Homo sapiens: one gene and its partners. The protein of the gene in region 2 interacts with the protein of the main gene of each other region in a pairwise test. Each region holds a gene or a part of one and is shown on either strand. Other genes may lie near its edges. The genes, in order: CKLF, LRP6, ANTXR1 and DAB2.

Region 1 (4,029 bases), on a different chromosome or scaffold from region 2:
TTAAGTAAATGATTGGCATATCACAGGTAAAAGAAAACCACTAGGTGTCATTATAGACCAGATACTATCTAGGTATCATTTTACTGTGACATTTTGGTTTCCTGAAAGATAGATGCTAAATAAATTTGTTTAATAAAATGAAACTTTCAAAATATTTAGGAAGCTGACTCCTTTTGTTGCAACAGAGTCTCACTCTGTTGCCCAGGCTGTAGTGCAGTGGCATGATCTCAGTTCACTGTAACCTCTGCCTCCCGGGTTCAAGCAATTTTTGTGCCTCAGCCTCCCGAGTAGCTGGGATTACAGGCATGCACCACCATGTCTGGCTAATTTTTGTTTTTTTTAGTAGAGACGGGGTTTCACCATGTCGGCCAGGCTGGTCTCAAACTCCAGGCTTCAAGTGATCTGTCTGCCTTCCAAAGTGCTGGGATTACAGGCGGGAGCCAGTGCATTCTGCCTGCTGACTTTGTTTTTTGTTGTTGTTGTTTTTTTGTTTTTTGTTTTTCCTTTTTAGCATTGCTTGGTAGTCTTCATGTAAGGCTCAGCTTTATTGTGTGTTTTTAGGATATTATCAACTCACTGGTAACAACAGTATTCATGCTCATCGTATCTGTGTTGGCACTGATACCAGAAACCACAACATTGACAGTTGGTGGAGGGGTAAGTGGAAGTCTTTCTGCTTGCTTTCTTCAGGTTTTATCAGAATGCAAATTTACTTGGAAAACAGATGTAAGAATAGAAAGCTATACTATATTCATCCTTGAGATTCCTAGGCCAATATACAATGCCTAGTGGCTTAATATTTTTGTCTGTGAATGCTTGCCCTGATTAACATGAAGGAGTATGATTTTATACTAGAAGCAGAATTAACCCAATAAAGGGGTTCCTACAGATTTCTTATAGGTACGTAGGGCTAGACTAGACTGACAAAAGCTACTGGAATCAGTTACAGCACTTAGCTCTGAGAAACCTGATGTCAAGCAAAACAAAACAAAAGGATGGATGAGTTTCATAGCTCTCCCTTTTACAGAAAAGGATACATACCATTTGTTAAGATGAGACAGACTGTTTTGAGCTCAGTTATTTCTTGTTCAGATCCTTCAGATAGAATATAATAGATGATGTCCTTACGGTAAGAGAACATTGGCAGGGCACCTTGCAACTAAAGGATCATTTTGAACCCGGCTTGAAGAGAAGCAGATCAATTCCATCAGACCTCATCCTAGAAAGCAAGCCAGAATATGACTCAAGTAATTTAGTTATAGTTCTATCTGATATTCTTCTAAGATTTCTCATACAAGGTTCAAAATCATTTAGCTTTTCTAGGTTCTGACCTAGAGAATTGAATTAGAAAGTTCTTAAATAAATCTTCCTACTTCCATGTTCTTTCATAGTATGGGTCACTTAGGAGAACTCTCAGCCATATATGTCAGAAGCCATGATTTTCATCTCCCTTAGGCCCTGAGCAACTTCATGAGGAGTCAGAATTATTCTAGAAATGAGATAGCTCTGTATCAATTTCCCCCAGTTGTTTTTGAAGATAATACTCATCTTTCTACTGTGAAGAAGGAAGGACCAGGCATAGGATTTACTTTCATTCACTTTTTTACTCATTCATTCATTTACTCATTTCTTAAGTGTACTTTGGCAGGGGCTGACAAAATATAGAGCTGTGCTATTCAGTATAGTAACCATAGTTGCTAGCCACATGGGGCTACTGAGCACTGGAAATGTGGCTAGTCTGAATCAAGATCAGCTGTAAGTATAAAAATACACATTTAATTTCAAAGATTTATTACCCCCAACAAGGAATGTAGAATATTTTGTTAATAACTTTGTTGATTACATGTTAAATGATAATATTTTAGACATACTGAGCTAAATATATTAAAATCTATGACTTATTTTTTTCTTTTTTTTTTTTTTCTGAGACAGAGTCTGTCTCTGTCGCCCAGGCTGGTGGAGTGCAGTGGTGCTATCTCAGCTCACTGCAAGCTCTGCCTCCCGGGTTCACGCCATTCTCCTGCCTCAGCCTCCCAAGTAGCTGGGACTACAGGCATCCGCCACCATGCCTGGCTAATTTTTTGTATTTTTAGTAGAGACGGAGTTTCACCGTGTTAACAAGGATGGTCTCGATCTTCCGACGTCGTGATCCGCCTGCCTCGGTCTCCCAAAGTGCTGGGATTACAGGCGTGAGCCACCGCGCCCGGCCGACTTTTTTCTTTACATTTATAATGTGGCTGTTAAAAAATCTTTAATTATGTGGCTGTGTTACACTGGTGACTCATATTATGCTGCTTTCAGACAGCACTGACTAGAGTGTGAGCCCCGTCCTCAAGTTGCTTAGAGCTTAACACAGGAGACACAAGTGGAAACCGCTGTATATAAGCTGTTGACAGGGAGCTGCATGGTGCAGAAAAGAGGAAACTACCTCTCTGGCAGTGGAATTGCTGTTTGCTGAGAATAAAGGAAAAAAAATGGAAAAGGTTCCAGGTAGAGGAGCCAATAGTGTACAGAGTGCCAGTCATGAAAAGATTGGTAGGAGGTATTCAGTGTGGTCAGAACCTAGGAGGCAGTGGCTTGAGACTCTGGGTGGAAAAGGAGACTGTGAGAGCCATGTCTGGAGCCAGGAAGCCAAACTTCCTGATGACTGGAAGAAGCTGACCAAACAGCATGCAAGGAATGACATCCCCCTCTCCCACCCCAGGCACCAGCTCTCAGATAGCCATCAGAGTGTCTGAAGGCCCCCACGTGTTCTTAGTTATTGTTTTTATCTAATTTTACTTTCTTAAGGTCTATTTAGAATCTCACCCTTTAAGCAGATGTAGCCTAGCCTTTGAGAGTTCACTTTGGATCATCTTATTAACTCCAGTTTTCTGGAGCTACAGTCCCCATGATTTAATATTGAGCTGGTGTTAACTTTGACCTTTTCTTCTGTAGAGTTTGTCAGTAGAGAAGTCAGAGTTGAACACTGGGGTTAGAAATATTAATAACTAAATATCCTCAGTAGGGCTTAAAAGAATACATGCAAGAGCAGGTCAAGAGATAAAAGCAAACAAGTATGGATTTCAGAGCCCACACTGCTTTATTATTTTTCTGCTCACTTAAATTATCTTTTCTCTTTCTATAGGCAAGTATTTAGAAAACTTAGCAATGAGGAGAATAAGATGATCTCTGAAGTCTCTCCATGTTAGTATTAGATGAAGCACAGGGAGCAATCCGAGTACCCTAGCAAGAGAGGAATCTGGTGGGCAGACCACTTAAAACTTGTGTGAATGACAGGAGTGGGGACCATGGTTAGGGCAGTGACACTTGTCTTTCTTTCCAGGTGTTTGCACTTGTGACAGCAGTATGCTGTCTTGCCGACGGGGCCCTTATTTACCGGAAGCTTCTGTTCAATCCCAGCGGTCCTTACCAGAAAAAGCCTGTGCATGAAAAAAAAGAAGTTTTGTAATTTTATATTACTTTTTAGTTTGATACTAAGTATTAAACATATTTCTGTATTCTTCCACATATTTTCTGCAGTTATTTTAACTCAGTATAGGAGCTAGAGGAAGAGATTTCCGAAGTCTGCACCCCGCGCAGAGCACTACTGTAACTTCCAAGGGAGCGCTGGGAGCAGCGGGATCGGGTTTTCCGGCACCCGGGCCTGGGTGGCAGGGAAGAATGTGCCGGGATCCGCCTCAGGGATCTTTGAATCTCTTTACTGCCTGGCTGGCCGGCAGCTCCGAGGTGTGGGGTTGCAGAGATTTTGAGTTCTCGGGCTAGGCGGTGGCATTGCACCCCCTGTGGCAATGAGGGTGGCTGAAGGGCTCGGCTTGTCGGTGGGGCAGCGAGAGCCGGGTGCACGCGCCGGGGAGGTAGCCAACAGCCGTTGGGACGCGACGCTGGTTCCCAGGGGAGAGCCAGCCGCTGCCGCGGCACTGGTTCAGACGGCCAGGCCCTAGGGACCCACCATGGATCCTGAACACGCCAAACCTGAGTCATCCGAGGCACCTTCAGGGAACTTGAAACAACCGGAGACTGCCGCAG
Region 2 (7,036 bases):
TTTTTTTTAAGAGAGTCACAAATGCTGGCTTTTATAATAATAAAATACAGCCTCAGGCTTTGGCAGTATTCTAAGGAGGAATTACCCACCAAAGTGACTGGTTTCAAAATAGTTTGATATTCTAAGAATGAAATATTGGGATAAGATTGGTTCATAGAATTGAGAGTTTAAAACAGCAACATACTCAGAGCACAGAATTTTAGAAAAGTTGAGAGAAATGTAAGTTCAGCCATTGCTTGCATATGCTATTACAATTTGGAGTGAAAGATTTCTCATGTAGTTGCATGGAATAAAGAAAGATTGAAATAAATAAAGTGTATTTGTAAGCCAAAAAAGAGAAAATTATTCCTTTTTGCTAATTTATGAGTCTATAAAGTGTGTTGAGCAGGTCAAGTACTGTTGTGTCAGCTTCCACTTCTATGTTCCTTGAAAGGCCAACAGACCATCAGTAGCTTGAGAGTTTCTATCTACACACTGAAGTGCCCAGGGTTCATGGGCATCCCTCAAGTGCCTGTTATCTTCTAGATAATCTTTTCTATCTTCTATCCTCTCTAGATAATCTTCTATTATCTTTCCTAGCATTTCAGTCAAATTGGCCTGATACGACCTCACCCATGTGTAGAAATGAAGTGGAAACCACTTAAAGTATCTCACTCAGAATTCTCATTTCAGCTTAGATAAGACTGAAATAGCCTTGGCTGTGAACTGATTGTTTTAATGATATGTTGTAATGTTGCTTTCCCTGCCACAAGTTTCTTCTTCTAGGAAGCCAAAACAGAAAAAGCAGAAGCCTGAAAATTGAGAAAGGAGAAAGATACAAAATTTTATTTTTTAAAAGTAATGTCCTTAATTCAAATTGACTAAGGCACTCATCAGAATAAACACGATTGCATAAAAAACTATTCTTGCTTAACTATTTTCCGTATAAGCCCAATTTCTGTTTCCTCTGAGTCAAAACTTACATCATTTGTTGAGATTTTGGTTTAAACTGGGACATGAAAAAATTTTATTAATTCAGTTTGTTTTCTTTTTTTTTTTTCATGAAAATAGAAGTATTTGGACTTTTAAATGTTGACCTTAGAAATTTCACCAAGGATTGACACCTGATTGGACAAAGAGTTAAACAAAACAAACTGTGACATCATGTCAGTATTGATAGTAAAAGCCTTTGAGAACTCACTCAGTGGGTCATATAACTTTTGGTCTCTGGCAGCCTTGCACCCTTTTTATTTTTATTTTTATTTTTTTTGAGACAGGGTCTTGCTCTGTCACCCAGGCTGGAGTGCAGGGGCACAATCACAGCTTACTGCAGTCTCCACCTCCCGGGCTCAAGCAGTCCTCCTGCTTCAGCCACCCAAGTAGCTGGGACTACAGGTGTGTGTCACCACGCCTGGCTAGCTTTTTTTTATTTTTTGTAGAGACGGGGTCTTGCTATGGTGCCCAGGCTGGTTTCTTTCTTTCTTTCTTTTTTAAAGACTAATCAAATGCAGTAGTAAGAAGGGGAGACAGAGTAGAACAAGGAATTTGATCTGTGACTGTGAACAATCTGGCAGCCATTTCTTTTGAAGCAAGCCAAGTGATATCAAATGGTTTGTATCCTGGGTTCCTGGGATATATTACCTGGTGGTGCTCTGTATCACTAGGTGTTTTATGAATCGTTGTATCAGTTTTTAACTTGGTTTTCCCCTTCTCTTGTAGTCACTTTGATGAGAAAGCTTATGAAAAAATCTTTGGGATAAATTTAAGATCAGCTTTACCATATTTAGAATAAACAGGTATAAGAAGTTAAAAATAGAAGTAGGAATGACAGAAAAGCCAGAACTTAGGTCAGATCTTATTTTCACTAGTATGTTTCTCTCTTTCCAATGCCTTTTTCTTTAGTTAGCAGTGCTACAAACCTAACAACTGTATGTCACTTGTAAAGATAAACAAGTGTAAGAAATAAACTAGGCCTCTGAAATATACATTAGAAAATTCACTGACCCTTTATGGGCATTTAAATTTTATCATTTTGATGTTTAAAGCTGCTCTTATGAGAGGTACTTACCTATACACAGGGAATGAAAACCGTTTCCCCCAATCACAGCAATTTCCCTTTGCTAAGATAACAACAATGGAATAGTTATGCCCCTGAGGCTGTCTACCAAAATCCAGCCTGGACTGTACAGAAATTGTACAGAATTGTACAGAAGAAAGAAATGAAGACTTCAGATGTCATTAAATTAATTATTCATCAGGTTAATTTTGGAGTAAAGAATGTTGAGGGAATGCTGACATGTTTGAGTAGTGTAAAATATGTAAAAACCCATTCTTCCCATGGGCTATGAAACTGCAGAACAAATTTGAATAGTCATTTTTTATTCTGTGATACAGTTTAACTTGAAGATGTAAGAGCACAACCAGAGGCTAGATTGAATTCACCTCTGCATTCCCATCCTGTTCATTTTCACTTGCCACTTTCTTATTTGCAAATAAGAAAGTACCTGCTATTTTCCTCAGCGAATCTGCCATTGAAAATTGCCTCTTGGTCTGTGTAAATTTAAATTGCAGTAGCTTATTGTTTTCATAGGGTAGTTGACATCTAATACCTCTATTCTGAGAGGGGAAATCATTTTTTTTTGTAAAACTAACTGCTTCTCTTTATTTTCTCCCTATACCAGCTACAGGCCATATAGCTACCGGCACTTTGCACCCCCCACCACACCCTGCAGCACAGATGTTTGTGACAGTGACTATGCTCCTAGTCGGAGAATGACCTCAGTGGCAACAGCCAAGGGCTATACCAGTGACTTGAACTATGATTCAGAACCTGTGCCCCCACCTCCCACACCCCGAAGCCAATACTTGTCAGCAGAGGAGAACTATGAAAGCTGCCCACCTTCTCCATACACAGAGAGGAGCTATTCTCATCACCTCTACCCACCGCCACCCTCTCCCTGTACAGACTCCTCCTGAGGAGGGGCCCTCCTCCTCTGACTGCCTCCAACGTAAAAATGTAAATATAAATTTGGTTGAGATCTGGAGGGGGGGAGGGAGCTATTAGAGAAGGATGAGGCAGACCATGTACAGTTAAAATTATAAAATGGGGTAGGGAATACTGGAGATATTTGTACAGAAGAAAAGGATATTTATATATTTTCTTAAAACAGCAGATTTGCTGCTTGTGCCATAAAAGTTTGTATAAAAAAAATTTGTACTAAAAGTTTTATTTTTGCAAACTAAATACACAAAGCATGCCTTAAACCCAGTGAAGCAACTGAGTACAAAGGAAACAGGAATAATAAAGGCATCACTGACCAGGAATATCTGGGCTTTATTGATACCAAAAATAAAAAAGAGGAAGAAGAAAAATTAAGTCCATCTCAGAGCAGCAAACCATAGATACATGGATGTAGCCAGATAGCCTTCAGTTAACTAACATTTGAGGGCCAACAAGTAAGAAATGATGAAAGGAAAAAAATGCAATTAATACTAACCTTGGACGAAGGGCTTTGTTTTCTCTAGGAATCCAACAGTGCTAGTGAGGAAAGTAGATATTTCTAAAAACCCATTCTGGGTGTTGCTGTTGTAGGAGAGATCAGCCCTCTGGTAAGATGCCATGAAGCTGTGTGTGTGTGCAAGTCTCTGTCCCTACCTTTAGAATCCATACCTCTGTCAAAATGAATTTTTTTCTCTAGGTATGTTTACCTTGCTGCCTCCTCCAGCAACTTGGTAAGTCATTTTGCTAAGATACCATGATTTTTTTAAGCTGAAGCATTGACTAAATGGAATTTTCTAAATTAAACTTGATTTTAATATTTCTTCTAGCTCCATTCCCCAGTAGGCTTAGCTCTTCAATTTGACTGCTGTTTTTGCATAATGATCAAAAGTTAGACATATTATTTCTCTTCTTCCAAGATTGTTTTAATGCTCATTAAAATGTCTTTTTACAACACATATAGACAATGTTTAAGAATTAAAAATTTAACCATTATGTTTTTGTTGTAAATCTCATATCCTTGCACTACTTTCAGCATATATCACAGTACGAAATCATTTATATATATATATATATATATATATATATATATATATATATATATATATATATTTTGTTTGTTTGTTTGTTTTCTGAGTAAAACATTTAAATATGTTCTGGTTAGAGACAATCTATTTAAAAAGATTTTTTTCTTATTAGGATTTTCCCTATATTAACAGTTTGTGATGTTTTCATGTTCTTTAGACCGGTTTTTCTCAGAATAATGTCTACATACATACCTCTTCTAATGTGTGACATGAATTTAATATCTTTCTGTTACCCACTGTGAATGTTAGGCTGTTTTCAAATTATCCACAAATTATTCTTGTAATCACCCAATATTTTTATGTGGGTCCTCTCTTACCCATTATGGATTAAGATAGTTTAACAAATTTAACAATGAGGATTAAATGAGAAGGCAAACTGTTAACTTCTCAGCTGTCAGAATTTGGGTGGAAGGGAATAATGGAAGCCTCTTTTGTGATCTGCCTGACCTGCTGTCATGTATGGTACTGGGGCTGCTACATCTTGAGCTATCAGGGCTGACCTGTGGAATGATTCTAGCACTTGCTCTGCCACCTTGCCAGAAGTTCGTTTCCTGCTTTTTACACATGTGTAGCACTTCTCTGCTAAAATTGAATGGTTTTAAACTAATGTATTTTTAGCTTAAGAGGTGTTGGTCAGTTAATTATTGAATTTTTTTTTTTTCTTTTTTAATTCTGTCTTGCCAAGGCCTCTCTGGGTTTCAGGGCCCAAGAGAAAACAGTGGAAGAAAGGATTCAGAATTTGGGCAAGGGTGAAGTAACTGTTCATGCAAGTTAAAAATACCTAAGTAAAGTTTTTGAAGATAAAATTGTGGTTTCAGAATAATGCTGATTGTTGGAGACTGTAAGAATCAGGTGCACTTGATTTTGCATATAAGCAAATGGTAAATCTATCAGAATCCTAAAACAGACAAGCATGAACTCTTCCCATTGCTGGAACTAAGTGCCCACAGTGTCAGACAAAATGGACATTGAACTTGGATTCTGTGATACACAGGGCACTTGATGCTTAAATGAAGATGGAAAGGTTAGCAATACCTGGGTGTCAGTTAGAATTTGAGAATTCTATATGTTTACATATTTAAATGTGCATCTTGATCTGGTGGGCTTCCCATGTGGAGACTTGCACTCTAATTAACTAAGAAGAATATTGCCTTGTTGGATCTCAGTCCACGTGCTTGCACTGCGATGGCAATGGCCTCTTCTTCAAAATACTAATTTGTGTGCCAATTTGTTTAAAATTATTTGAAGGCAGTTCAGCCTAATCTCAGTGTTCTCTTTCTGGGGTAGATGAGATGGATTCTTAATATTTCTGGGAGTACTTTTTAATGAGAGAATTGTCAAATTTGGAAAGATTTATTGAGCCTTAGGTTACATGGACAGTTAAGCTTAAGTAAACTGTATATTGATTATCAAACACAAGCTGTAATTGGAAAAGTTGAGAGGAAAAGCATGAGATCACAAATTAGGGGGAAAAAAGAAAAGGGATTTTTAAATTTGGTGTATTAAATTCATTGTCCAAGGGGGAAAATGAATAATGTTTCATTAGATTCCTTATATGCAAAAGTATTTATTTTGAACATGTGTCCTAAAATATATGCACTAACTGATGTGATTAAAATTGTCCAAGAAATAAACTTGAGCATAACATACTTTGTGTGCACCACAGTAAGCTATTCTGCATTGAAGTGGTCTTTTATAACTAAGGCCTGGACTTTGCTCCAACAGAGTCGTGGTCTTCTGAATAGTGACTTAAGGAGTTTTGTTTGCTTAAGTCAGATAATAGCACATTCACAGGGAAACAAAGAGAGTTGGTGGATAGAATTTTCTGACTATTAATTTTTCTTCCATGAAATTTTATTATGCCTTTGGCACTTTCTGCCACTCTTACAGCATATCACAAGATATCTGTTTAGCAGAAGATTATGTAGTTACTTTAATTTTAATATAAAAGTAGCTTGTGATACATTACCAAGAGATCTCTGATTCTTTAGTAAGTTTGAGAACACCTATTCTACAGAGATGATAGGTACTTAGAAATGAAGACTTTAAAGTACATTTTAATCTAATATAGGCCAGTAATTGGGGGAAGGGGCTTTGAGCAGTACAATTTTAAGATGATTTTGAGGGTTGTATTTCTTTATCATTTAAAAATATCCTAAAGTCAGTAATTTATATGAAGGAAACTCATTCATTATTGAAGGTATTAAAAATAGCCATCATCTGTATTAGGTAGCAGTTTTGGAGGATCATCTTTTTCTTTTGCTATAAAGCCCTATTAATGAAGAATACTTCCAGTAGAGTTAATAGCTGTAGCTTACCTAGTGTGTTAATGAAGTGTGTTTATTTATGTGACTTGATACCAGTAGTCATAATAGAGACTGAAGAGGTATGCGTTAAGCACGCCTACTTCTATGCAGTAAACAGGCTGCAGCTGCCTAGATTAGATTCTTAGAAATGTCATATTTTGAATTGTTTTATTTCTTGTAGGGGAAGCTTTGTCCCACTTCATTCATTTGCATGCCATAGGAATTACATATTGGTTATCATTACGTATCTAACAAGATTCAGAAACAAAAATCTTGGACTTTTCACATCCGAAATATGTCAGCTCTTAATAAATGTGTGGTGCTTAAGTCTACATATGGCATCCATAGTTGATTTAGAGTATGGATATGAGTGTGTTGACCAGTTATCAGTAGGTGGACAAATATTTGGGCATCTACAGATGAGACTATGCACTAAGTGTGGACTGAGTCCTAAAGAAGCTTATAGTCAGGTGTTGTTTAAAACATTATCAGAATTCTTAAACCCAAGGAATTTAATTTTATTTGGTATTTCTTAAGCCTAAAATGAACCAAGAGAAAGATGATTTTAGAAAGTACTTGTAGTGAAAGATGATTTTAGAAAGTACTTGTAGTGCATGTGTGGCTTCTGACTTTTGGGATGGCACCATTTTATAATAGTTTCAAAA
Region 3 (7,036 bases), on a different chromosome or scaffold from region 2:
CTGCAGGGAAAAATCAGAGCTTTCTAAGACATCTTGCTGCACCTCGGAGCTCCGGTGTGTGAGCAGTACTTGTTGAGTGCCAACTTGAATGTTGGGCTCTTTAGAGCAACACTAGGCTCCACAGGAGAAGCCCTTGAGGGTGCCTCAGAGGTGCTCACCAACCAGTTAAGGAGCAATGTTTCTAATGGGAAACATTTAGAGTAGGGTTCCACATGGCAAATTATATTCCTCATTGAACAAATATTTGTGGAGGGCATAGGGTGGACCAAGCTGGACATCTTGCAAGAAAAGAGTAAGACATCAATTGAAAGCCATAAGCACGCACCAGATCCCAAAGGGCTGTGTATGCCAGTGGAGGTGTTTGGCTTTTATTTTAAAGGTGATGGGGAATCACTGAAGAATTTTGAGCTGGAGAGTGAATTGACCAGACTTAGGTTCGGGAACAATCGTTTGACTATGTCAAGAGCTGCTGGATTGTGGTCAAGTGCTACACTGTGTGATGCTATCTACAAGTCTTTCAAGAAATCATTTGCACTTTTAGTCTATATTCAGGAATACAGTATAAAGAGGATGAGTTCCTGAGGCAAACAGAGCTGGGTTTTAATCCCACTCTGCCACTTACTGGCTGTGTAGTCTCGAGCAAGTTATTTAAATAGGTGTGAGACTTTAGTTTTTTTTCTGTACAATGAAAATACTGATACATAACTGACAGAGTTTTGATGATAAGTAAAGACACTAATGTACCTGGACGTTTCAAATAGTCCTCCCACCACCATTAGATACACCCAAATCAAAATGGCACTTTCAAGCCTAGGAGGAAGGCCAGCTGGCATCCTAAGCCTTCATTTAGCTGGAGATATTGTTGCATTTTCTTCTTAGAATTTAATCTGAGAAATTTTTGCTAATGTGTGAAAATAATTGGCATTCATTCCTGTAAATGAGGATGCTGAGGTAAACTGAGGTCAAAGCCAAATCTTGGATCGGAATCAAACCACCCAAAACCAATACTGTGGAAAATAAAACTGGGTCACAAAGACCAGTGTTATGAAGCGAGAGTTCCAATCGTCCTAGCAACCTTTTAACCAAACACTGGTGCAGATTTGCTGGCCTACATGACGGTGAGAACATCTGGCCTTTCTATTATCCTCTTGCAAGCAAAAAACGATGTTGTGTAAACTGATCTTTAGGCCAATTATATGGTCTAAATGTTACCGTGTTTATGCTGGCACCTCTGACTCCAGGTTTTAAGAACTTATTGTAACCACACCCCTCTTACAAAGACTGTGGGTCTTACTGTATATTACCCCAGGGATTTATTGATGCCGAGTCTGCACCTTTTTTCAGGAAGATAAATTCAACATCAGTCAAATTGTGTGCAGTGCACTGTGGGAGGTCCTATAAGAAATAAGTTACAGGACTTGGTGGCAACAGGAGGAGAGAACAAACATAAGAGTGCAGGCTCTAGGGGCTGCTTTGTTTTTCCCTACAATTTTGCTACATTTTTTCCTATTTACCAGTTGTATTATAGAAGCCAGATGTGGAGTATAGAAGCTCTAGTCTGCAGCTCACTCAGAAGACACTAAACTAGGAGTTGGAACACCTGATACCACCTCCAACTGGCCTTTCCACCACAGACAGGGTCTGATTGTGTCTGCGCATCCCCACCTGCAGAGAGACAGCATTAGACTACTAAACACAATGCGCCAGGCACTGTTCCAAGCCCTTCATAACACTGATTAAGGGAGTCCTCCTAATACCTGTAAGTGACAGGCGGTATGATTACCCCCACTTCACATCACACTGTGGGGTGTCCCACAGTGGGGGCCACGCAGAAGCTCTGAGCTTGCCCCTCCCCTCTGGCTGCTCGATGAGAGCTCTGGGCTTTTGTGCTCAGCTCTAAAGGACCAGGTGGTGGGGAGTGAGGGGAGGGTCTATAATGAACCACAGCACAATGCTCTGGATTAGGTGACCCATGGGCGTACCCCTAGGGTGTTACTGACCAGAGGAAGGAGGACTCTTTGCCTCCACCATCACCATTTTACCCCACCCCATCTCCATCCCTCTGCTGCTCTGGCCAAGACACCACGGCGGCAGCTGGAAGTGCTGACCTCAGGTCTTCCTCCCCACCTCACTCCCCCACAGCCCCCACTGCCCTCTTTCATCCCATCTTCAGGGGACAGATGTGAGAGACCATCTTTTAGTCTGTGGATGCTTTCAACTTTTTTGAAAACCCCTGGGAATCCTAACATGGATTATGAACAGAGATATTGGCAGAAGAAGGCTGGGAGCTCCCGATTTTGTCTCTGGACAAAACAGCCTCTGGTAAAAACAGTAGAGTGACTTATTTCAATTGAAGAGAATAAGTACATGAGCTTCCGGATTCATTAATTAATTAGCCTCCCCTCTCGGCCAGCCTGGTGGCCAGCTCTAGAAGACATCTGAAGCCAGATGAGCACTCAACCCCAGGCACCAGCAGCTCCTTCCCCAGGATGAGGGTTTCCCTTCATCTTTCAAGGACATGAATCTCTTGAGCCTCTCTGTCTGACTTTGCATGTCTAGGAACGAAGGGCAGAACAGATAGCACAGTAAATCCCAGCTCTAAATTGTCGTCATGGGAATTCATCACAGATGGTAATCATTAGGGCCCTCACATCTTAAAGGAAAGCTTTATCCAGAATCATAAATAAACTGTAACCAAGGCTTAGATTTATAAAGCTATAAAAGAGGGCAGCTTGAACAGCCGGGAATGTACAGTACTGGGTTACAAAATCGGCATCATGCCTGAAAGGCTGGACATAAACCCGGGAGCTCTGGGCAGTGCAGCGAGGAGGGGGTAAATTCTTTCTGCAGTGGGTGGAACCCCAGTCACAGCCTCCCCGGCTTAGCACCTGGTTTAATCACATGAAATGCAAGCTCAGAGAAACAGGGGTGCTGGCATCTAAACATAGCATTGCAACTCCTAAACCAATTGCAGTCCCATCAAGTTTGGCCCTTCCTCACCAAGATGCCCTCTGACTAATGCTATGTCCTAGGAATTAATTTTCACTTTATTGCTAAGGTTTCCCACCCCCTACTTTTCCTGAGTGGCTCAAACAACTCCGTTTTTACCAAAAGTCCCTGTACCATGCAGAACACCCTGTGAGGCTGTGAGTTGTGGAGCAGCAAAGCACAAAACAAGGCTGCAGCCTTCCAGAAGTTTCTTGTCTGGCCAGGGAGGCAAGGCATTTACAGATGAAACAACTGTAGTATGCAGGCTGCAATGTGTGGTGTAGGCTGTAACTAGAGAACTCAAGGAAGCAAAGGGTAAGTGGAGGCTGGAGTCACTGTGGGGGAAATGTTTGGGGGAAAAGGGACATGATTTATGACTTGAAGGATGCACAGGGCTGTGCACAAGGAGGGAAGGTTTGCTCAGCATGTGGCTTGTCCCTTCTGTGGCCCATCCTGAGCCAAGTCTCTAATAGCACACTCTCATTTTCCTCTTGTCCTAGAGCTAATTTAAGCAGCAATTGTTCCCCAAATTCCACACCTCACCCTCTTCATTCTCATTCAAGCTCATCCCTAAAAGGCCTGGAAAGGGAAACTCTGTGCTCTCTGGACATATCTCGTTCAGGCTGGACACCACAGGATAACTTCCATCCTGGAGCATGTGGCCAGGAACAATTCCACACCCCAGCCCCAGGCCCAGCATAGAGGGCAGCCTCAGAGAGGAGCAACCCCACCTCAGCCGCTGTGGGGAGCAATTCTGTAGGCATCCAGACATGCCAGAGAGAGAACAATAAGATACCCCACAGGCATGGGAAGTGAGGGAGGCCAGGAGCCCTCAGAGGGGTGGGTACCCACCCAGGCAAGTGGCCAAGCGAAGAGAGCTCACGCCAGCATGGAACATGGTGAGCAGGAGAACCCCTGTCTCCCCTCCGTTGCAGAGCTGAGTGTTGCACAGAAGTTCCTGAGTACCAGATGAGACTAGTGGGTATCTACTGGGGGACAGAGAAAGCATGCCTGTGACTCTGGAGAGCAGAGCAGATACTATAGGGGAGACAGGGCTACTTAAGGCTGGCTTTGGACGCTGACTTTCAGGAGGCTGCTTTAAGGGGTTCCAGGGTCTTCTCTGCATTGTTCAGTTGAGTACCCAAGAAGGGTAGGAGAAAAGCAGAATTCAGGGCAGATGCCTGCTTGGCAATAGAATGTCCCCAGGTTGTATTTCTTAAGGTACACAGGTTGTCAGTTCCTGTGACAACAACTAAGGCTACCTGCACAGGTGCAGCCGCGTGTAGAAGAGGGATTCCCACAGCCAGAACAAGGGCAGGACAAACTGTTTATTATTTACTAGCACTTTGGAGAAGGCAAGGCGTGGATGAGGAAGCTGTATTGATCACATCAGTAGAGATAGCTGCCTCCTTCATTCATTACCGGGAACAAGTGTTTGAGGGGGCACAGACGAGGTAAATGCATCAGGGCCTCCATGACAACTCCAATCACAGAATCTAGCTACATCCTTGAATTACAATATAGGAGAAGCTCGTGGTGTTAACCTTCTGCCATTTCCAGGCATGTAACTGAACTAATCAAAATAAATTACTTTTGTTTATGAAATATGAGGATCCCTTCCAGAAGGCAAAGTAGCAGCAGGAAGAATAATTCTGGAGTCTATTTTGGGTTAGAATCACCAACCCCATCTCTTCCTAGTTGTGTGGCCTTGAAAAAGTAACTCCGCTTTTCTGAACCTCTGCTTCCTCATCTGTGCAGTGGAACAGCTAATAATACCCGGTTAGCAGGGCTGTTGAGGAGATTCAGTTTAATGACCTCTGTACACAGCACCCAGTTAAGGTCAGTCTCATTCCCTTTCTCCCACTTGAGAGAGTTAGACTCCAGGAAAAGATGAATTTTAACAGTTTTGCAACACAGTCCAGGAAAAGGAAGTGGGGAGCTCACTTGTCCTCAAGTTCTACTATGTGCCACTAGAGAGTTGTCACCAACAGGGGCCAGCTTTCCACATATTGCTTGCAAGCCGCCCACCACAGCACCACAGGCCCTGATGTGAGGCCGTCCGCTCACGTTTCCTTCTCTCCAATTCTTTTCTAGGGGCGCTGCATCAACTTCACCAGGGTCAAGAACAACCAGCCAGCCAAGTACCCACTCAACAACGCCTACCACACCTCCTCGCCGCCTCCTGCCCCCATCTACACTCCCCCACCTCCTGCGCCCCACTGCCCTCCCCCGCCCCCCAGCGCCCCTACCCCTCCCATCCCGTCCCCACCTTCCACCCTTCCCCCTCCTCCCCAGGCTCCACCTCCCAACAGGGCACCTCCTCCCTCCCGCCCTCCTCCAAGGCCTTCTGTCTAGAGCCCAAAGTTCCTGCTCTGGGCTCTCTCAGAAACTTCAGGAGATGTTAGAACAAGTCTTTCCAGTTAGAGAAGAGGAGTGGTGATAAAGCCCACTGACCTTCACACATTCTAAAAATTGGTTGGCAATGCCAGTATACCAACAATCATGATCAGCTGAAAGAAACAGATATTTTAAATTGCCAGAAAACAAATGATGAGGCAACTACAGTCAGATTTATAGCCAGCCATCTATCACCTCTAGAAGGTTCCAGAGACAGTGAAACTGCAAGATGCTCTCAACAGGATTATGTCTCATGGAGACCAGTAAGAAAATCATTTATCTGAAGGTGAAATGCAGAGTTGGATAAGAAATACATTGCTGGGTTTCTAAAATGCTGCCTTCCTGCCTCTACTCCACCTCCATCCCTGGACTTTGGACCCTTGGCCTAGGAGCCTAAGGACCTTCACCCCTGTGCACCACCCAAGAAAGAGGAAAACTTTGCCTACAACTTTGGAAATGCTGGGGTCCCTGGTGTGGTAAGAAACTCAACATCAGACGGGTATGCAGAAGGATGTTCTTCTGGGATTTGCAGGTACATAAAAAATGTATGGCATCTTTTCCTTGCAAATTCTTCCAGTTTCCAAGTGAGAAGGGGAGCAGGTGTTTACTGATGGAAAAGGTATGTTGCTATGTTGATGTGTAAGTGAAATCAGTTGTGTGCAATAGACAGGGGCGTATTCATGGGAGCATCAGCCAGTTTCTAAAACCCACAGGCCATCAGCAGCTAGAGGTGGCTGGCTTTGGCCAGACATGGACCCTAAATCAACAGACAATGGCATTGTCGAAGAGCAACCTGTTAATGAATCATGTTAAAAATCAAGGTTTGGCTTCAGTTTAAATCACTTGAGGTATGAAGTTTATCCTGTTTTCCAGAGATAAACATAAGTTGATCTTCCCAAAATACCATCATTAGGACCTATCACACAATATCACTAGTTTTTTTTGTTTGTTTGTTTTTTGTTTTTTTTCTTGGTAAAGCCATGCACCACAGACTTCTGGGCAGAGCTGAGAGACAATGGTCCTGACATAATAAGGATCTTTGATTAACCCCCATAAGGCATGTGTGTGTATACAAATATACTTCTCTTTGGCTTTTCGACATAGAACCTCAGCTGTTAACCAAGGGGAAATACATCAGATCTGCAACACAGAAATGCTCTGCCTGAAATTTCCACCATGCCTAGGACTCACCCCATTTATCCAGGTCTTTCTGGATCTGTTTAATCAATAAGCCCTATAATCACTTGCTAAACACTGGGCTTCATCACCCAGGGATAAAAACAGAGATCATTGTCTTGGACCTCCTGCATCAGCCTATTCAAAATTATCTCTCTCTCTAGCTTTCCACAAATCCTAAAATTCCTGTCCCAAGCCACCCAAATTCTCAGATCTTTTCTGGAACAAGGCAGAATATAAAATAAATATACATTTAGTGGCTTGGGCTATGGTCTCCAAAGATCCTTCAAAAATACATCAAGCCAGCTTCATTCACTCACTTTACTTAGAACAGAGATATAAGGGCCTGGGATGCATTTATTTTATCAATACCAATTTTTGTGGCCATGGCAGACATTGCTAATCAATCACAGCACTATTTCCTATTAAGCCCACTGATTTCTTCACAATCCTTCTCAAATTACAATTCCAAAGA
Region 4 (7,036 bases), on a different chromosome or scaffold from region 2:
CTTTTAAGAAGGTGCCTTGTTCTACTATAACCTTTAGGTTTTATGCTCTGAAACAGAACCCCCAAACAACTCTGAACAATAAGGATTTGAAAATTTATTCAAAACAGTATGATATGAAGGGATGTGGTGGCTGCATCTCCCAACCAGAGGGTAGAAGGCAGGTGTTCTAGAAGGTTCCAGGGACACAAGAGGCAGGGTTCAGTAGGGAAACTACTGTACTTCATTTACACTTAAGCTAGAGAGTTTAGGATCTTAATTTATTTAAAGCCATAGATTCAGTTTAGCTTTAACCTAGACAGAAAGTGAAAAGCATTTTACAAGTAGAAGAGGCAATGAGAAATAAGGCAACAGATAATACGTCAAAGCTGGAACAAGGGCAGAAATCAGAACGTGTCTGGCTATCAGCTTTGTTTTTGACTACTAAGGCCAACCTTTTTATTCCTCTGGATGGTCTGCAGACCAAGTTCCTAGAGAGGTATGGAGAAGAAAGAAACTTGTGGTTAGAATTTTTGAACTGAATATCAATGTATTAAATATCAAGTCATTATTAAAGATGTCAGTAATAGTATCTCCTAGGGCTGATGTGAGGATTGATGAAGATGATAAATGTAGAGCATCTAATAAAATGCTTAGCGCAAGTGCTCAACAATGTTAGTTATTTTATCCCATGAGAGTTCCCCTTACCCAATCTATTGATGTAGCAGGTTGACCTAAACTATCCTTCCTTCATGACCTAAAGAAGGAAGGACCTCCAAAGAGAAGTCTAGTTCATTCAATTTAGTCCATACAATCCATCTTGACTCTGAGTGTAGTTTACTCCTTCTATTGGTTTGGGTATATCTCCCCTTGAATGGAAGGTGAGAATGATCTCTGGTAAGACTTCTAGCTCTTAAATATCTACTTACTGCTTTATTACCTTTAGAATCACCTGCACTCTTGTTAAAAGGAAGCATTTCCTTGGCACCAAAGAGAAATTCCTTAGGGCTGCAGTAGGACCCAGGAATTTGCATTTTTAATGATTTACCCAGTTCTCTGAAGCAGTTTATGGAAAGGTACTACAGGAAACACAGTCATTGTAGAACTGGAGTTGAGGGAAAATGATCCAGATGCCTATAAGCTCAATCTTATTGTTTTCGCCACGTTTAAGATATCTATCTATTAAAAATAATTACATTCTAGATGAGCCAAATCACAGTTTAGTAGTCCTGTTTGGATGAGACAAGATTGGAAAAAAAATGGGCTTGGTTTTTGTTGTTGTTGTTGTTGTTTTTCATTATTTCTATTGTTCTACCCCTACCAGCTGGCCTACCTGCTCTAAAATGGGGAGAGCGTTCCTTTCCCTACTAAATTCAGTCTTTTGAGATCAGAATAAAGTTGCTGTCACCTTCTGTAGAGAAAGAGTTACACTGAGCCCTCCCAGGATTTCAGCTGAGGGTGATTCTACCTAATCACTTATCTAAGATAAAGTTCATGAGACAGAAGAATCAACCTTCAGACTCATTTTGAGCTCCTACTGCCTATGAAGGAGATCTTTAATAGTTGTTAAAACTTTCAGATTTAATACCATCAGACTCTTTCAGACTAACTTTGAGATTGCTCACAGTTAAATGGTAGAGAAGTAATGATCATAATCTGTTTTGCTGACTTGGTGGCTTCAGAAAGTCAATGGAATCTGAACCCTTTATAGGAAACCAAATTATTACTAGGTTGTTTTGCAACCACTTCAATATGAAAGTAAAAAGGTTAGAAACCTGTGATGTGTTGTTTTGAGTTTTACTTCCCACACAGAACTGAAAAACCAAGAACATGGAATAAGATAAAAATCCACATCCCCAAGGGTATATTACTATTTTTTGATGTGTTTAGGAATTCTATTCTTAAGTGCCCAGCCTAGTCATTATTGAATGATCTCAGTAGAGATTTTCCTGTCGATTACTCCTAAATTATAGATATTTACCCTCTTCCCAATTCTAAAATTAAAATTTCACTCTTTATTCCATGTCACCCTTTCTCACAAAAACCCCTGAGACAGGCTTATTAGGATCTTCTACTTACAGAATTTAGGCAAAAGGATTTCCAAATGGATCCCTATACATCTCAGAAGATACAGGTTGAGAAGAAGCCACCTAAGAAGATAAAATCATCTAGTCAATAAATACAGTTACAGTCATAAGAAAAAAATCGCAATGAAGACTTCCAAAATTCTTTTAAAAATCGCTTAGGTCATAGGCCAATCAGCCAATCAAACATTATATGGGGCTTACAGTGTTTTGTTTTCATCTGCTTGCAGATGGCAGTGTATATTATTTATGTGAAAATCAAGGTTCAGATGCATTTCATTTGCCTCCCCGAAATGGGAAGTATTATTTTCACAGGCTATAGAAATATTGTTGGAAAATTAAGAACTTAAATTTTTGAAAGGTTTTCAAGACAGTATTTTGGCTCAATTTTCTCCCGAAATGCTTTCATGGGTCAGGTTAAGTGAGATATGAAGGATGTTTTCTATGTGATATTATTTCTCAAATTCAGAAGATAATAGTTCTTGTGCAAATAATCTTTCTCCAGTTTAAATGAATGTTTATACTGTGAAGGTTCTTGGTGACAAATCTTAGCTAAACATGTTTTACCATCAAAAAGCTATTATAGCCAGGTGCGGTGGCTCATGACTGTAATCCCAGCACTGAGGGAGGCCAAGGCAGATGGATCACTTAAGGTCAGGAGTTTGAGACCAGTCTGGCCAACATGGCGAGACCCCATCTCTACAAAAAAATACAAAAATTAGCCAGGTGTGGTGGCACGTGCCTATAGTCCCACCTACTCAGGAGGCTGAGGCAGGAGAATCCTTTGAACTCAGGAAGTGGAGGTTGCAGTGAGCTGAGATTGCACCACTGCACTCCAGCCTGGCCGACAGAGCAAGACTCTGTCTTAAAAAAATAAATAAATAAATAAAAGCTATTATAAAAGCAAGGTTAATTCAGGAGGCTGGAGCTCTATGTGGCATGTACTTTGGAGAAGAGCTTCTAGTAGTTCATACTTACAGAGGCTTGTGATGAACCAAAAGAATCTTTAAAGAAAGGGTTCTCAAATGCATTGTCAGTAGATTTGGTAACTGGCAGGGAAACTTGTCTGGGAGCTGGCTTTGGTGGTTCTAGAAGGTAAAAAATCCAGGCAATCAGTAGACAAGCTTTCCCCAAATATAGGCCAGTCCCCGAGTCAGCTTATTTTTGAAGTTTAGTTCTATACTTTTGAAATTTACATCAGTGGAACAAAAATCAACACCAAATACTAGGTACCCCAATAATTATTATCCTTCTCGGAAGAGAAAGCCATGCATATTTATCTGAAGTGGAAGAGATTCAGAATCCCCTCATTTTAAGCTGATGGGACATGGATGACGCCTTATTACACAGCCCTCCAAGAGTCACCAGTCATCACATTTCAATAGCTCATGGCAGCCCTTTTAAGATTTATCACTAGAGGGCAGCATTGGGTCAGTCCTCAGAAATGACTAAGGTAAATAGTTATCACCAAAAGGTAAATGGTTAAGTTGTCTCCGTAACCCTTGATTACCAACAGAAGCAAGAGCAAAGCTGTTGGCGGGTGGGAGAGGGTTCATTTGGGGAACTCATTTAGGTCCATGTGGCAGTGGAGATAGTTGTTGGAACAGTAGGCAGAGTGGTGAGTGGCTTACCATTGATCTTGTTCAATAGTTGATTAGCATCAAAGTCATCATGGTCTGCATTCTCCTGAGGAATGCCAACCTTGCTGTTGAAATAACTGGCAAAGGCACTCAAAGTCCCAGAAGAAGTCTGCTCTCCCTTCCGCGCGGGCACAGCAGGTGGCTGCCGCAGTTGGAAATCCTTAAACATTTCTTTCACATCCTTGATCTCTTTATCCCCAAGTGGGTCTAAGGCAGTGAAGGCATCACTGGAGATGTCCTTGGGAGGGCCAGCTCTGGGAGGTGGCTGAGGAGGAGTGACCAGGAGAGAGGAGTGCATGGATGGGGGCTGAGTGGACACAGCAGGAGCTGGAAAAATATTGCTCTGAAAAGGATTCCCCAAAGGGCTTGTTGTTGACCAAGCATTGGGTGCCACAGATGCAGAAGGGCCCCAGACAACAGGCACTGGAGGGGGAGTTGAGGCTGCAAAGGGTGAAGGCTGGTTCCAACCTGAAACAGCTGGACTTGTACCAAAAATGACGGGCTGACTAAAACCTGAAGGTTGACCACCCATCATGGCTCCCGGAGCCATTGAAGGGGACTGATTGAAGACCAAAGATGCTGTGTTCCATGGTCCTGCCTGAGGGAGTGTGACAGTTACACCACCTGAAGTAAGAGGAAGAAAAATACTTATCAGGAGTCAAGCTTGAAGAAGATTCTTGAATTTCAGAGAGCACAACTCTCTGGAAAGCCTCTCCACAGCTAACACCTCCATTGAGCCCTGAGGCTGATATGGGAAGAATATGACAGATTAATCACTGTAAAAGTTAGCCAGCTAACACTGTATAGTGAGCATTCAAATGCTGGTTGCATTTTGAGGCCCATGTTCTTCCTACCATGTCTTTTTAACTTTCCTGATTAGAAGGGTAGTACGGTCCATAAGTATCTACTCATCAAAAAAATAAGCCCTTATCATACAGACACTAGTTGTCTGATACATCTCAAACAACTAGAACAGAGCCTGTTAATAGCAGGAACTTATTTAAGTGAATATATTTTTATGCATGAACCATGCTGATTATGATGTAGTTAATTAAGATAATCCATTGGACTCTCTGAGTCACAGATTTGATCTTTTCATTTGGCAACTGGCTCACGTCTGGAGTCTTATGGAAACCAGCAATCACACATGTGCACAAGACCTCAACATGCTTGCATCCTGAAGAAACCATTTCAAAGTTTCTTCACTTTTTATTGCTGCCAAGACTGATACAGCTATATACATAAAGGGAAGATAAAGTTTGGCCAATGCCAAGATAGTTTTAGACGTTTATATATAAAAATGGAAGAAAGGATGTTATCCTAGGAAGACTGTTTCAAATAAAAGTGCTTCCTGCCATGTGCCATTTGCTAAACCTTGCCAGAAGTTAGAACAGAGAATTTAAAAGAGGAGAGAGGACAATGGGAAACAAAAATCTTTCAAGGTAACTAATGGCCTGTGTTGGGGCATCTGATCTTTGTGGTGAATGGCTCCATCTCCTACGACCTTGCTATGTCATCAGGAATTCGTTAAATCGCCAGAATCCAGGCCTCTCCAATGATGGCCTCTGATTCTTGAGAGGCTCGCTCCCTGCATCTTGTTCTAATATACAGGGCACTGTCTTTCCTGCCTCTTTCCAAGTGCATTAATGATTCAGTTAAACTCACCGCTAAGAAGGAAACCTAAATTCAGCCTCATATCTATTAGTGGGTGATGCTTCGCTCTTGAAATCTACTTGCTTTGAGCTTTGGTGCATGGCATTCTTTAGTTATGAAAGTTTTCTTCAGACCTGGGTTAGGGACGTTTATGTTTCCAAGAGGGAATACTTTGAAAATGGTATTTAGGAGTGATGGAGCACAAGATTATATCTTCGAGCTTCTTAGTCTGAGACATTGGTATTACCTGACTCCATTCTCATCATGCATGCTGGCCATCTGGCCATGGGCACACATGGTGTACTCACAGAGAGTGGTGGGTTTCAGAACAGGCCATTTCACTTAATCAGCATGCTTTTTGGAGGTGAGGAAACTGGGTGCAAGAATATTCATTAAAATTGGGAAGGTCATAGTCTGGGATGGTAGAAACTGAAAATCAGGCACACTGGCTCTAAATCCGGCACCCCATTCTCCTGTTCTGCTTCCTTGGCAGCAAGGCATGGGGCAATTTTAATTTTCAAATGCTATGTTAATTCAAATACTTATTTCACGGATACAGAAATTAGACTTCATTTTCACTGAAGAATATACTCCTTTCATAACAAATCAAGAGAAAAGTTATATTCTACAATACAGGCTCTAAAAATGGGTTTAGTTTGAACAAAGTTGTTGCTTGTATTTTAAAACACATTCAATTAAATTGTATTAACAGAAGCCAGATCACTTGCTAATAATTTCCACCAGTTAGCTGTGCAAAAAGGAGGGTAGAATTTTATCATCTTTCATGTTGGACAACTTGTCTTCATTTAGGAAAATATCATATTAGTGAGAATGGTATTTGTAAAAGAGAAAAATATTAGGGCTGGGCGCAGTGGCTTACACCTGTAATCCCAGCACTTTGGGAAGCCAAAGTGGGAGGACCACTTGAGGCCAGGAGTTCAGAACCAACCTGGCCAACGTGGCGAAACCCTGTCTCTACTAACATACAAAAATTAGCTGGGTGTGGTGGCGCATGCCTGTAATCCCAGCTACTAGAGAGGCTGAGGCACTTAAACTTGGGAGGCAGAGGTTGCAGTGAGCTGAGACAGCACCACTGCACTCCAGCCTGGGTGACAGAGTGAGACTCTGTCTCAAAAAAAAAAAAAAAAAAAAAGGAGAGAAAAATATTACATTTGCCAGGAATTCAAGGCTTTCCCAGTATATACTTATACCAGTCTTCATTCCTACCCACCAAATCCCCACATTGTGTTTTAACACATTGAACACATTGAACACATTGACAAAGTAGGGGCAAGGAATAAGGAAAAAGGGGACATGGGTATAGAACATTAATTTTATTACCTTCTGAGGCTAGATTAAAATACAAGCAAGTTGAATCTGAGGGCTCAGCTTTCTACAATACCCTCTCCCCACCCCCCCAGTTCTCCAGGGGAGACAGTCCCCCAGCTGGGTCTAGCGGAAGCCAGACCTACAACCTTCCATGGTTTGGCTGAGGATCCCTGCTAGTGGACAGGGACTATACTGTAGAGCTCAGTTTGAGTCCCATGTCCAAACTTGGAACAATCATCAGTATTCTGCAGTTGTATACCCCAAGCCCTCAACAGGGGCACCTAGCCAAAAAGCTTCACTTCGTCTGAATAAATAAACAGTTATAGGGTCCAGCTGTATTTTCAGGCTGACTTG

Evidence for each region.
Region 1: the proteins of LRP6 (region 2) and CKLF interact in binary tests that used the Homo sapiens proteins (3 or more experiments, as listed by UniProt).
Region 3: the proteins of LRP6 (region 2) and ANTXR1 interact in binary tests that used the Homo sapiens proteins (3 or more experiments, as listed by UniProt).
Region 4: the proteins of LRP6 (region 2) and DAB2 interact in binary tests that used the Homo sapiens proteins (3 or more experiments, as listed by UniProt).

The regions. Positions count from the first base shown.
Region 1 is NC_000016.10:66,562,561-66,566,589, forward strand, and holds the end of CKLF (chemokine-like factor), read left to right. Parts: intron 1-561; coding exon 562-657; intron 658-3,325; coding exon 3,326-3,451; 3' UTR 3,452-3,508; downstream 3,509-4,029. Other genes in the region: CMTM1 (CKLF-like MARVEL transmembrane domain-containing protein 1), read left to right, coding at 3,954-4,029. UniProt on the Homo sapiens protein: May play an important role in inflammation and regeneration of skeletal muscle. Essential for embryonic development.
Region 2 is NC_000012.12:12,117,045-12,124,080, reverse strand, and holds part of LRP6 (low-density lipoprotein receptor-related protein 6 isoform b precursor), read left to right. Parts: intron 1-752; coding exon of another isoform or gene 753-802; exon of another isoform or gene 803-899; intron 900-1,475; coding exon of another isoform or gene 1,476-1,566; exon of another isoform or gene 1,567-1,589; intron 1,590-2,660; coding exon 2,661-2,955; 3' UTR 2,956-7,036. UniProt on the Homo sapiens protein: Component of the Wnt-Fzd-LRP5-LRP6 complex that triggers beta-catenin signaling through inducing aggregation of receptor-ligand complexes into ribosome-sized signalosomes.
Region 3 is NC_000002.12:69,240,143-69,247,178, forward strand, and holds part of ANTXR1 (anthrax toxin receptor 1 isoform 1 precursor), read left to right. Parts: intron 1-5,082; coding exon 5,083-5,343; 3' UTR 5,344-7,036. UniProt on the Homo sapiens protein: Plays a role in cell attachment and migration. Interacts with extracellular matrix proteins and with the actin cytoskeleton and thereby plays an important role in normal extracellular matrix (ECM) homeostasis.
Region 4 is NC_000005.10:39,372,959-39,379,994, forward strand, and holds part of DAB2 (disabled homolog 2), read right to left. Parts: intron 4,325-7,036; coding exon 3,692-4,324; intron 3,149-3,691; coding exon 3,039-3,148; intron 2,127-3,038; coding exon 2,061-2,126; 3' UTR 2,056-2,060; intron 468-2,055; 3' UTR 1-467. UniProt on the Homo sapiens protein: Adapter protein that functions as a clathrin-associated sorting protein (CLASP) required for clathrin-mediated endocytosis of selected cargo proteins.